Homo sapiens: one gene and its partner. The protein of the gene in region 1 purifies or fractionates together with the protein of each later gene. This does not show direct contact. Each region holds a gene or a part of one and is shown in the gene's direction. Other genes may lie near its edges. The genes, in order: LARS2 and RDX.

Region 1 (4,626 bases):
CAGCCTCTTTTTGAAGTGATGTCAATGTGCTTCTTCCTCTTTGGGCCCTTGAAGCTCAGGCTCAGTGTTGAGTCCCAACCTGACTTCTCTGCCCATCTCATTGGCGCTTTATGCCAGAGACAGGGGGAGCATGATTGGCACCTACTCACCCTGAAGGGACTGCCTTGGTAAGGCAACTCAGGGGAGGCCTGGGGAGCCAGAACCGTGTGAGGGTGCCCGAGGCAGCAAGGGAAAGACTCAGAGCACGATGGCCACATTCAGAGATCACATGCCCTGCCCCCAAAGCCCCAGCTGTGGACAAGAATGACTCAGGTCCCTTGGACAGGCTGTCACCAGTGATGACTTAGGACCAGCCTGCCCGGCTCCAGCAAAGCACAGGAAGCTCGAAGGTTTAGAAATGGGTCATTGTTGTGCTGAGGCCATGCGTCAAAGAGGACATCCCACAGCCAGCTCCTATCCTGGCCAGCACTCTTGACAAAGGCAGAGGGAGTGCAGCTTAGTGAGCTGGTCCCTTTACACAGGTTATTCACTCCAGAATCTGGAGAATTCTGTCCTTAAGGAAAAAAAAAAAAAAAACTAAGCTCAAGATCCCACAGCTTGTAAGACCAGGCCTAAGAGTCAAACCTGAATCTCCCCACATGAGAGCACCATGCTCCCCCTCACCCAGCACCCCCTCTGTAGGTGGTGGCCCAGAGGAGATGTTGCCCTGGGCTGCTCTTCCATAGGAGGAAAGACATGATTCACTAATAACTGCATGTCCTGAGAATTCCCTGTTGGGGACCCCAGGACTTCACTAGGGGCATGGCTCTTGGGTGACAGTTGGGAGGTCTCTTCCAGGGTCTCAGTCCAGCCAAGCATGTGGCCTTGCAAGAAGGCAGCTTCTAATGGCTCAGAAACACCAGGGCAGGGGGGCCACAGTCCTTCACACCACACACTTAGTTCCCCAGCTTCAGAACGCTTTAAAACGCTGCAGCATGGAGCCTCACGCTTTCAAAACAGTATTTCATAATATGCCAGGACTTTGTGTTTTATTCGTCCTCTCCCTGTGACCTAGGCTAATGCAGACAATAAAAATGCCACCAAGTTCTGCAAAACTGAAAAAATGAAGTGGGTGATTAGGGGACATTTGATAATGTGCTTTGGTTGAAACTTGAGAAATTATTCCTAGTAACTTTTCCTAAGACTGTGACTATATTTTCCAAGTGAAAAATAAGAGCTAGTGAAAGTAATGTGTGTGTAGATTTCGGAGCAATGGGATTGAGGATTTGGAAGCATGACTTCAGAAACTGAGCCACGTGGTCACCTTCCCTCATTGAATCAATATTCGGTGAATACCCACCTGTGTCTGGAACTGTACTGACCCATGTTAAGCGAGAAAGAGTGATTAATGTGACAAGATGTGGCTCCAATTTCTAAGTCCTCACACTAGAGCGCCCCCTTCTGGAGCCAGTCAGCAGAGAGAGAAGTTTGACTGTGTCCCCCTTGAAACCGTCAACTGTTTGGTCCACTTGAGACCTAGGTAAAATCTGAGGGGACAGCTCACTCTAACCTGGATCTGAACTTAAACTTGAGCCCCGATGACAGAATAATCCCTTTCTGCCTGGAAATGGCCCAAGCCATCTCATGCTGAGGCTTTTTGACATAATCTCTACCACAGCTGTGTATGGGAGCAGTGCTCAGAAAATGCAAGGCGGTCCTCACTCCACGTACGGGCACTCACATGCAGTCTCAGTGTCGGTCTCTTTCTGCAGGTCTAGGCATTAATCCTATTCAGCTGGTTGCATTTTACCCTTATGGGAAGCAGAGTGCTGACTTCCTCCTTTCTCCACCTCTATTCCTTTCCCCTAAACAAATGCAGCCATGCCCTTTACAGGCAGGAGGTTTGGTATTGGGCCGCCTGCCACTCTGAGGATGTTCCTCATTGTTTATCTTGGCTTTTCTCCTTCTCAGATCAACAATAAAGCTTGTGGCAAAATTCCTGTGCCCCAACAAGTTGCCCGGGACCAGGACAAAGTCCACGAATTTGTTCTTCAAAGCGAGCTGGGTGTCAGGCTTTTGCAAGGACGAAGCATCAAGAAGTCCTTCCTTTCCCCGAGAACTGCCCTCATCAACTTCCTGGTGCAAGATTGACAGCCAGGAGGCTGCAGCTACCACGAGGGCCTCTGAGGAACCTCCTTCCAGGCCTGGGATGAGGGGGCGATGTCTGCTGGCCCAGGGGAAGGGAAAAGACAAATGTCTTGACTGTTGACCTCGGTCCTGTGGCAGACTGCAGTCAACAGTGTGCCTCTGTAGTGTGGCCTGGTGCTGGGGTGAAGGTGAGCTGGGCAAAGGAGAAATATGAGCTACTGAGGAGGGGGTTGGACATCCTGCCCCTCACCCCCCACCCACACTGCAGGTAGAGGAGGCCATCTGATCCCATGGGAAGCCATCAGAGACACTGCTGGTGGGAGCAGGAAGGAGCAGTGCCCCTCGAGCAGCCAGGAAGCCTGCGGATCTGGGAAATGGCTCTGCCTTAGGCACTTCTCGGGAATTTGAGGCCAGCCTGAGGAACTGCAGGACTCAGGTGCAATGTGCCAGCCACTTGGAACTGCTAACTGAGCCTCCAGATGGTAGTGAATGGTCTCTTTGCCTTCAGGCTGGATGAGGAAGTCATTTAGGAAATGTTCAAATAACCAATATGTGGAAATGGACACAGGGATCTTCTGAAGTTGCTTTGAATCAAAAGGCAGGCAGTGCTGGTTCCTCTGCCTGTGTCCCCACCACTCCCCAGCTCTGTCATGCAGGCCTGTCCTCCCCAACCCCAGCTGGATGTGCCTCCCAGGCCTGCTGTGGTTCTGACACACAGGATCCCAGGCAAGGCACCACTTCCTCACATGAATGAGGAGCAGCAAGTCATAACCACTCCCTTGGGTATACAATTTGCTGTGTAGTGAAGTGGAACCAGGCTCAGGCTGCTGGTCCCAACCTCAGAGCCCCACCGCAGCCCAGTAGGGATGCAGCACGCCCCAGAGGGCTCATGTGGGCCCCAGATGGCAATGCCACCATTGTTGATGTGACTCCAGAGCCAGTTATTAGGAAGAGCAAGCTCACCACAGAGGAGTGGAACTGAGGCCCCCCAGATGTTGCCTCCGGTGTCCAAGCCACAGCGGTCTGGCTGTTGGGAAGATGGCCAGGAATGGACTCATACCATTGGCACATTAGGCTAATCCTGGTTTTATGTGAAGTCAGCAATTAAGTGTTCCCACTAGAACTGACCTAAGCCACTGATTAATATTTAATGAGGGAAGGTAGGGGAGAATCTAGCCATTTTATAATGCCAGAAATCTATATATGTTATCTGATGCCATTTTTCTGAAGTAGCCTCACATGTGGTCCCCCTGCAGTTCAGCAGTTAACAGATGACTTTTTTAGTGTAATAAAATGTTTATCATCTATGACTTCAGGACATATGTGTGATCCTGGAATACACCATATTCCAATTTCAGAGTTAATTACAAACAGATTGAGGTATTCCATCATCATCGGAAGCATTGGCTGTGTGTCTGACTCCACATGGAATGCTATAAAGTGGGATACATGTGGTTCTTCTTGTTCCAGAACTTACAGTCCATGGTAGACAACACTGATACAGGCAAACTAGCAACAGCAATTAAGTCACTGGTTCTCAGACTTAATACTCTGCCTGGTCCTCATGCCCAGATATTCCAATTTAATTGGTCCATGGTGTGGCTTGAACACCAGGAATCTTTAAAACTCCACAAGTGATTCTAATGGGCAGCAAAGTTTGAGAATCACTGGACACATTGATGCACTTGAGCCATCATTTCTATCTAGTTCTTCCTCTTCCTAATCTTCAGGTTAGCGGGGATAAGTTTGGTCCAGGACCAAGAGTTGGACCAAAAGGGAAGACAGGGGCCAGAAGTCTAGAGTGCTAGAGCCGACTTGAATGTACTCAGTCTCATTGCACATGGCAGTGAATATGGATTAAATATAAGCCCATGAAAATATTTGGTACAAGGAAGGAGTGAGTGATTTTGATTATCTTGTTATTTCCTAGTAAGCTAAGTGGTCTTGAACAAGATGAGGGAAGGGAGCCCTTTATTTGCATGTGATCTGACCAGAGCAATGGGCCAGTAAAGCCTCAAGGCTGCTAGACTGACCAGCTGGCTGACACCAGCATGGCTCTGAAGAAATTGCTCCAAGAGGATAAAGCTTTTGCAAACAAGAGCTCATCAGTACATACTAAGAGACAGTATGGGTAATGGAACAACTGGACAGAAAACTCTGACCCCTGGGAGTGAGGTGGTGGGGAATAATCTCAGCCATTTATTGACTGTCTTGTTGAGGTCAGAAACTGGACTCAGCAGGTTCACAATAATTATCTTATTTAATTCCCACAAAAACTCTAGAGGGAAGGAATTATTCTCTCATAAAAGAAGAAACCCAGGCTCTGAGGTTCAATAATTGTCTCAGTTTTCACAGCTAATAAGTAGGAGAACTGGGATCCAAGCCCACATCTTCTGTCCTCCACGTTTGCCTCCCCGCCATGTCTACCAGTCCCCTCACCTAATTGTCCATGTTACTTGGTGTACACAGTCAGGTGAGATGGCTCCCAAAACCACTGGC
Region 2 (7,294 bases), on another chromosome or scaffold:
AGATTATTTTAAGTCTCATGGCATTACTGATCCAGCTGAAGACTGTTCTGGTAACTTCCTTGATTGCTGCAGCCAGGGTGTGCGTACTGCTTTGATGATAGAGGTGTCCAATCTGGCCCCAGAGAGTTCCTCAATTTCTAGCCTATTTTAGAGAAATCCTGCCTTTCCTACTTTAAGTTCCTGGTGTATATCTTTATATTGAATGTATAGCTTAAGCCATTTAAAAAAAACTATAAAAGTGATATATTTTATGGCAAAGTTTAAAAACTCAGAAAAATGTCAAGGAAAAGGTCAAAGTCCTCCTTACTCCCTGGAACACCCCAGCCCCTTTCCCAGTCCTGTTTTCCATAGGTAGCTGCTGTCGGCAATTCCTTGTTTATAGAAAATGCCAGTAGGTATGCAGGGATAAACATATACTTTATATCCCTTATTTGTGATTTTAAAGTCTTGTTAAAATAGGGTTATATTGTAACAGACATTGAAAGGATGCTTATTAACTTGTGTTAAACATTGAGTAAATCATATTTCTCATGTTTTCATCATTTGAATAAAAGCACACAATAGAATTCCCTACGCTAATTCTCAAGTGTGTGTATGTGCAAATTTGTTTGTGTACAGATTTTCTTGATTAATGATTGAAGATGAAGTTTACTTTTTGTTTTCTAGCATATGGCATATAGTTGACAATGAGAAATGGTGTCTTTTAAAAAAGGAGGTTTATAATTTGGTGTGGGAAATAGCCACATCTTGCTCTTTACAAAAAAAGTTTGCCAACTCCTTAGAAAAAACATCCTGTTGAAAGGATATTTTAGATACAGTATTGAAGAAACAGGTACTTCATTGTTTATTTTCTCTAAGATTATAGAATTTATAAAGCTATTAGTAATTGAGATAATGGACTGTTTTCTTCTGAGTTGTAGATAATCTCTATGGCTTTCAGGACCTTAAATGTTTTTTTTTTTTAATTTATTTGTGAAAAGTTTAAGTCAACTAGGACTGACTGCAGGTAAATTTGTGAAGTGAGCGCTCTTCAGTTTTGAGCCCTTAGATCCTTTAAGATGCATTGGCATCAAATAGCAGAAAATTCTCCAACTGGTTTAAACAATGAGGAAATTTAATGTCATTTTTTTCTTCATTTTTTTTTGAAAACAGAGTCTTCCTCTGTCACCCAAGCTGGAGTGCAGTGGCACTATTACAGCTCACTGCAGCCTTGACCTCCTGGGCTCAAGTGATCCTTTAAGTTCCTCCCACATCAGTCTCCCTAGTAGCTGCCAACACAGGCGTGTGCCACCATGCCTAGCTAATTTTTTTTTTTTTTTTCCAAGACAGGGTCTCGCTCTGTTGCCCAGGCTGGAATGCAGTGGCATGATCTCAGCTCACTACAGCCTCTGCCTCCAGGGTTCAAGCGATTCTCCTGCCTCAGCTTCCCTAGTAGCTGGGATTTAAGGCACATGCCACCAGGCCCGGCTAATTTTTGTATTTTTAGTAGAGACAGGGTGTTACCATGTTGGCCAGGCTGGTCTCAAACTCCTGACCTCAAGTGATCTGCCCGCCTTGGCCTCCCAGTGTGCTGGGATTACAGGTGTGAACCACTGTGCCTGGCCAACAACTAATTTTTTAAAAAGCCTTTTTGTAGATACGGGGTATCCCTATGTTGCCCAGGCTGGTCTCAAATGATCATCCTGCCTCAGACTTCCTGCCTTGGACTTTCTGCCTCGGCCTCCTGAAGTGCTGGGAGGATTACAGGTGTGAGCCACCATGCCTGGCCAAAATTTAATGTCTTGCATACTAAAAGTCCAGAGGCTCAAGAATGGTTCAATAATGACATCAAGGACTCCTTCTCTTTCCAACTCTCTTCCCTGTGATTTTCCCTATTAACTTCATACTAAGACAGCCCTTACCCATCTCAATTTGGCTGCTGCAAAGGAGCCAGGAGCGGTGGTGTGGACCTGTAGTCCCAGCTACTCAGAATGCTGAGGTTGGGGTATCACTTGAGCCTGGGAGGTCAAGCCTGCAGTTAGCCCCTTGTCCCAGTTTGGCTGCTGCATCCCATCCAGACAGGGCAGTATCCAAAGGAATAAGAGGAACTGTTTCCAGAAACCCCCAAGCAGATGTCTTTCGAGCCTCATTGGCCAGGATTGGGGCACATTCTATACCTAACCAGTCAACTGGCAAGGGTAATGGAATTGCCCTTTCTTCCAACTCTGTTCCCAATAGATACTTCTTTTTTCTTTTTCCTTCCTCCCTCCGTCCCTCCCTTTTTCCCTGTCTCCCTCCTTCTCTCTGTCACTGTCACCTCTCTGCTGCTGGAGTACAGTGGCATGATCATAGCTCCATGCCACGAACTCCAGGGCTTTGAACTCCGGGGCTCAGGCAGTCCTCCCACCTCAGCCTCTGGAGTAGCTAAGACTACATGTGCACACCACCATGCTTGGCTGATTTTAATTTTTTTTAGAGATACAGTTTCACTATGTTGCCCAGGCTAGTCTCAAACTTCTGGCCTCAAGTGATCCTCCTGCCTCAGCCTCCTAAAGTGCAGGCAACTGCACCCAGCCCTGTTATTTTCATTATTCATCTATATTACATGTCTTCGGTCCTTTTTTTACCCCCACCCAAAGTCATATCCAAAATTGATCCATTACAGATAGTCATATGTAGTGAGCTCATATCTTTGTAGGTACCAACTTCAGTTAAATTATGAAAGGAAAAGTGTTGATTCTTGTTAAAATACTTGGCAAATTGTGGTCCATGGGCTAAACCCAGCCTACTGCCTGTTTTTATAAAGTTTTATTTGAACACATCGTAGCTGACTTGTTTACATATTATCTATGGCTGCTTTCCTGCTACAACAGTAGAATGGTTTCAACAGAGACTGTGTGGCTTACAAAGCTTATAATGTTTACTTACCTGGCCCTTTACGGAAAAAGTTTGCCGACCACTGCTTTAAGATGTCAGTCGTACATTTGGACAGTTATTATATGCCACATACTCTTTGCATTTGAGAATGGAAAGATGAGTAAAATACTCAGGAGTTCTCACTCTAATGGGCAGATAGATGTGCCATATTGTATTCATAAAGTGTGTTAAGTGCTTTTTTTTTTTTCTTTTTGAGACTGTCTCTGTTGCCCAGGCCAGAGTGCGGTGGCTTGATTATAGCTCACTGTGACCTTGACCTCCCAGGCTGAAGTGATCCCTCCACCTCAGTCTCCCAAGTAGCTGGAACTATAGGAGCTTGCCACCACTCCCGGCTTTTTTATTTTTTGTAGACACGGGGTCTCACCATGTTGCCCAGGCTGTCCTGGGTTCAAGTGATCCTCCCGCCTCAGCCTCCCAAAGTGCTGGGATTACAGGCGTGAGCCACCACACCTGGCCTGTTAAGTGTCACAGTAGTGTGTATAAGTTAATTAATACTCCTTGCAGCAGCATTTTAAGCACAGTATTCTGTGCTGTGAGTTCTGGATGTTTCTTGCTTCCTCTGTTTTTTTTTCTTTGTTAAATCTTCCTGTTGTTTTTGTAAATTGACTGATAATCTTTTAATAAGTTAACCAGAGTGGGTATTTTTGTTTATAACAAAAAATCCTGGTGAGTACATGGAATAATGTGGATGCATTAATGCAACGTAAGGACCCTTGTTTTTTTTTTTTTTTTTTTTTTTTTTGAGACAGTCTCACTTTGTCACCCAGGCTGGAGTGCAGTGGCATGATCTCAGCTCATTGCAGCCTCTGCCTCCTGGATTCATGCAATTCACCTGCCTCAGCGTCCCGAGTAGTTGGGACTACAGATGCACACCACCAAACAGGTCACCACGTCTGACTAATTTTTATATTTTTAGTAGAGACGGGACTAATTTTTATATTTTTAGTAGAGACGGAGTTTCGCCGTGTTGGCTAGGCTGGTCTTGAACTCCTGACCTCAAGTGATTCACCCGCCTTGGCTTCCCAAAGTGCCGAGATTTCTGGTGTGAGCCACCGCCCCCAGTCAACATAAGGACTCTGAGTGAAAGGGAGAATGGGAACATAGAAAATCTCAGCTGTGGTTAATTGACTTTAGATCCCTTTGGCTTGGATTAAATTTTCTTAGCCATTGTGAGGACTCCTGATACTTAAGCTGTTTATAGGTTCTAGACTTAGAAAAACTATAAAAACTTAGTTTGGCTATTCAGCAAAGTTAGTATATATCACCAGAAAGCTTACTGCTAATATCTAATCAACAAGCAGCATGGTAATTACAGTTATCATTAAGTGTGTCAAATTATCTGGCCTTTAATTTGATTGTCAACTTAATTGAAATTATTAAAACAGTTTTGGATAGAGATGGTTAAGGCTTGAATTTGGGAGGCCTAGTTGTAAAAAGTTTTTTTTTTTTTTTTTTTTTTTGAGATAGAGTTTTGCTCTTGTTGCCGAGGCTGGAGTGCAATGGCGCGATCTTGGCTCACCACAACCTCGGCCTCCCAGGTTCAAGTGATTCTCCTGCCTCAGCTTCTCAAGTAGCTGGGATTACAGGCATGCGCCACCACGCTCGGCTAATTTTTTATTTTTGGTAGAGATGGGGGTTTCTCCATGTTGGTCAGGCTGGTCTCGAACTCCCAACCTCAGGTGATCCGCTCACCTGGGCCTCCCACAGTGCTGGGATTGCAGGTGTGAGCCACCACGCCCAGCTGTAAGGAGCTTTTTTTGTTCCCCATGTTCATGTTGGTTCTCTCTTCTTAGTGATGCTTATTAGTTTGGTCATTTTACAACATAAAAAAAGAGAGGAAACTATTGCCCTTGACACTAATCAACAGAAAAATTAAAACTAGTATTATGTGTAAGATTAATTCACCAACAAAATCAACAGACATTTTGAGGCCCAACTGTGAACCAGGCATTGTATCAGTTTTTCAAAAAAGGGAGTTAATATCTAGAAAATTAGAAGCTTAATTTTTTTATAGCAATAGAACTGCCATATAGCCTCGTTGACTGTGTTAGAGAATATTGTCTAATTATAAAGACATTTAAGAAACATACTGACTTTGTTCTGTTTTGAAAATAAGCTATAATATCTGATGTTTCAAAGCACATTAAGGGTAGAATTATTTGTGAGAATTATTTTGTGTTTGCTTCTTTCCTGTTATATAAGTGACTTGCATGAACCTGTTTTCCCATTTCTAAACATTTTTATGTGAATGTTTAATGTTTTCTTAAGAGTGAAATGAGGAAGTTGAACTGGATTTAGCTTTCTTACCTTTTAGTATTTAATAATTGCAAATGATAGTGTATTATTTTGTTTTCTGCTCACCTTAGGAACAATACAGGTATGATTTTCCTTTTTAAATTTACAAAACTCTTAGAAGAGATCCTAAACTCAGTGTAAAACTTTGGTGTTAATATTGCAGTTCAGCTTTATAAATTTTAGAAATTTGCTTTGCATTTTCAGTAACATGTATATTACTCAAACGTTGAATATTTCATTTCCTTGAAAATATCATTAAACCAGAAATCATTTCTACATGAGCAAGACTTAATATCTTATTTAAAACTGCCTCTCACCCTTACAGGAAATCCATTTACAGAGATGATCATACCAGTTATTAATGTGCACTTAAAACATCTTTAGAGGTAGTCTCTTGACCTGCTAACAATAGAGAGCTTTAATAGCCTACTTCTTGAAAAGCCCTAGTAATTGTTTCGAATGAACTTGTCTAAAATGGTATCTGAGAAAAGTAGAATAAGATAATCAAAAGAGCCCAAGACTAGGATTTTAAAGGACTTATGTCTTGTTAAGTAGCCCCCTGACATTGAGCAAGTCATTTATCTGAATCTTAATTTCTTTTTTAGAAGAATGAGAGATTGTAACACCTGTCTTGGGCAGGAAGGGGGAGGGCAGTTATTGTGAAGATAGGAAGTGTAGGCAGAGTGGAGAGTGAGCATTCTACAGATGCTCCCTGTATTCACTACCCTTCTTGCTTTTGGCCTTATTTCTTTACTTGCAAAATGGAGCTAAAAATTCTTGTCCTCTTTGCTTCACTTTGGGATGACGGGATGACATGTCATTATTTAGGTAAAAGTGCATTATTATTGCCATAAAATTTATTAACACTGAGCTAACAGCATAATAAGCATAGTTCTTTGTATATTAAAGGTTTTAAACCCGGGGACCTATGACCTTGAATGGGGAAAAAGTTACATCTTTATTTTTACATTTTCTTGTTATGAGTATAGACAACATTAGCATTAGCAGTACAGTACCAGAGACTGTGTCGTCTATTTTTTAATTTAATTTTTATTTTTTATAGAGATGGGATCTCACTCTGTTGCCCAGGCTGGAGTGCAGTGGCACCATCACTCCTGGGTTCAAGTGACCCTTTAGAATAGCTGGGACTACAGGTGCACATCACTACACACAGCTAATTTTTTTATTTTTTGTAGATTGCCCAGACTGGTTTTGAACTCCCGGCCCCAAGCCATCTTCCTGCCTTGGTCTCCCAAAGTGTTGAGATTACAGGCATGAGCCACCATAACCAGCCCAGAGACTGTTTCTAATAGAAACGGTAGATACTTTTGGAATACATTAAAGCTGTCTCGAAATAACTTAACTGTTACTTAAAGTATTAAAAAAGCATATATATTACTCAAGGTTTGTGTTTTTTATATTTTGATAATCATATTCCAGTGTAATTGGTTTCTTTTGTAATTTTCTGTATTGTGTGCATGTATTTTATGCATTTAAAAATACTTTTCTTAGAAAGAGTTCATAGGCTTCACCAGCAGGGCCCATGCAGGAAAAATAAAATGATTAAGAACTTCTTTAGTAGATTCCATTATTGTGTTGATTGGACTGCCAGAGTTGCCTTATTCAGTTTATACTGTTCTTTGTTGTGCAGCTTTCTCCCAGTAAATTGGCAGATGAGTTCTCTTGGAATATTTTGGTTTCTGGAGAGACCACAATTATGTTCAGAGGTCATTTCTAAGTCCGAAAAGGCAGAAAAAAATTTAAAATAATTAAAATTAGGCTTAGGGAAAAGAGTATCTCAAAAGTAAAATCAGGCAATCTGCTATGAATTATTGATGCTTCAGTGCAGGCACTGCATGGACTAGACTTTATAACACCTGTTTTACCACCTGACAGGTGTGAGTCTTGTGCCACTGACCTAACAGAGCTCAATGTGTCGAGCATGAGGCTATTTTTCCATTGCATTAGGTAGAAAGGAGACTGAGGGTTACCCTCAGAGTTAAAAGACAAAGGAGAGAATGTTTATTGTGTCTATGTTGTCTCTAATGTGTGGCACTGTGTTTGAGTACATATTCATATGAGT

The links.
Region 2: the proteins of LARS2 (region 1) and RDX purify together in Homo sapiens (co-immunoprecipitation; 2 studies listed by BioGRID and IntAct, with this or other methods). This does not show direct contact.

The regions. Positions count from the first base shown.
Region 1 is NC_000003.12:45,545,401-45,550,026, forward strand, and holds the end of LARS2 (leucine--tRNA ligase, mitochondrial), read left to right. Parts: intron 1-1,950; coding exon 1,951-2,130; 3' UTR 2,131-4,007; downstream 4,008-4,626.
Region 2 is NC_000011.10:110,286,321-110,293,614, reverse strand, and holds part of RDX (radixin), read left to right. Parts: intron 1-6,407; exon of another isoform or gene 6,408-6,615; intron 6,616-7,294. UniProt on the Homo sapiens protein: Probably plays a crucial role in the binding of the barbed end of actin filaments to the plasma membrane.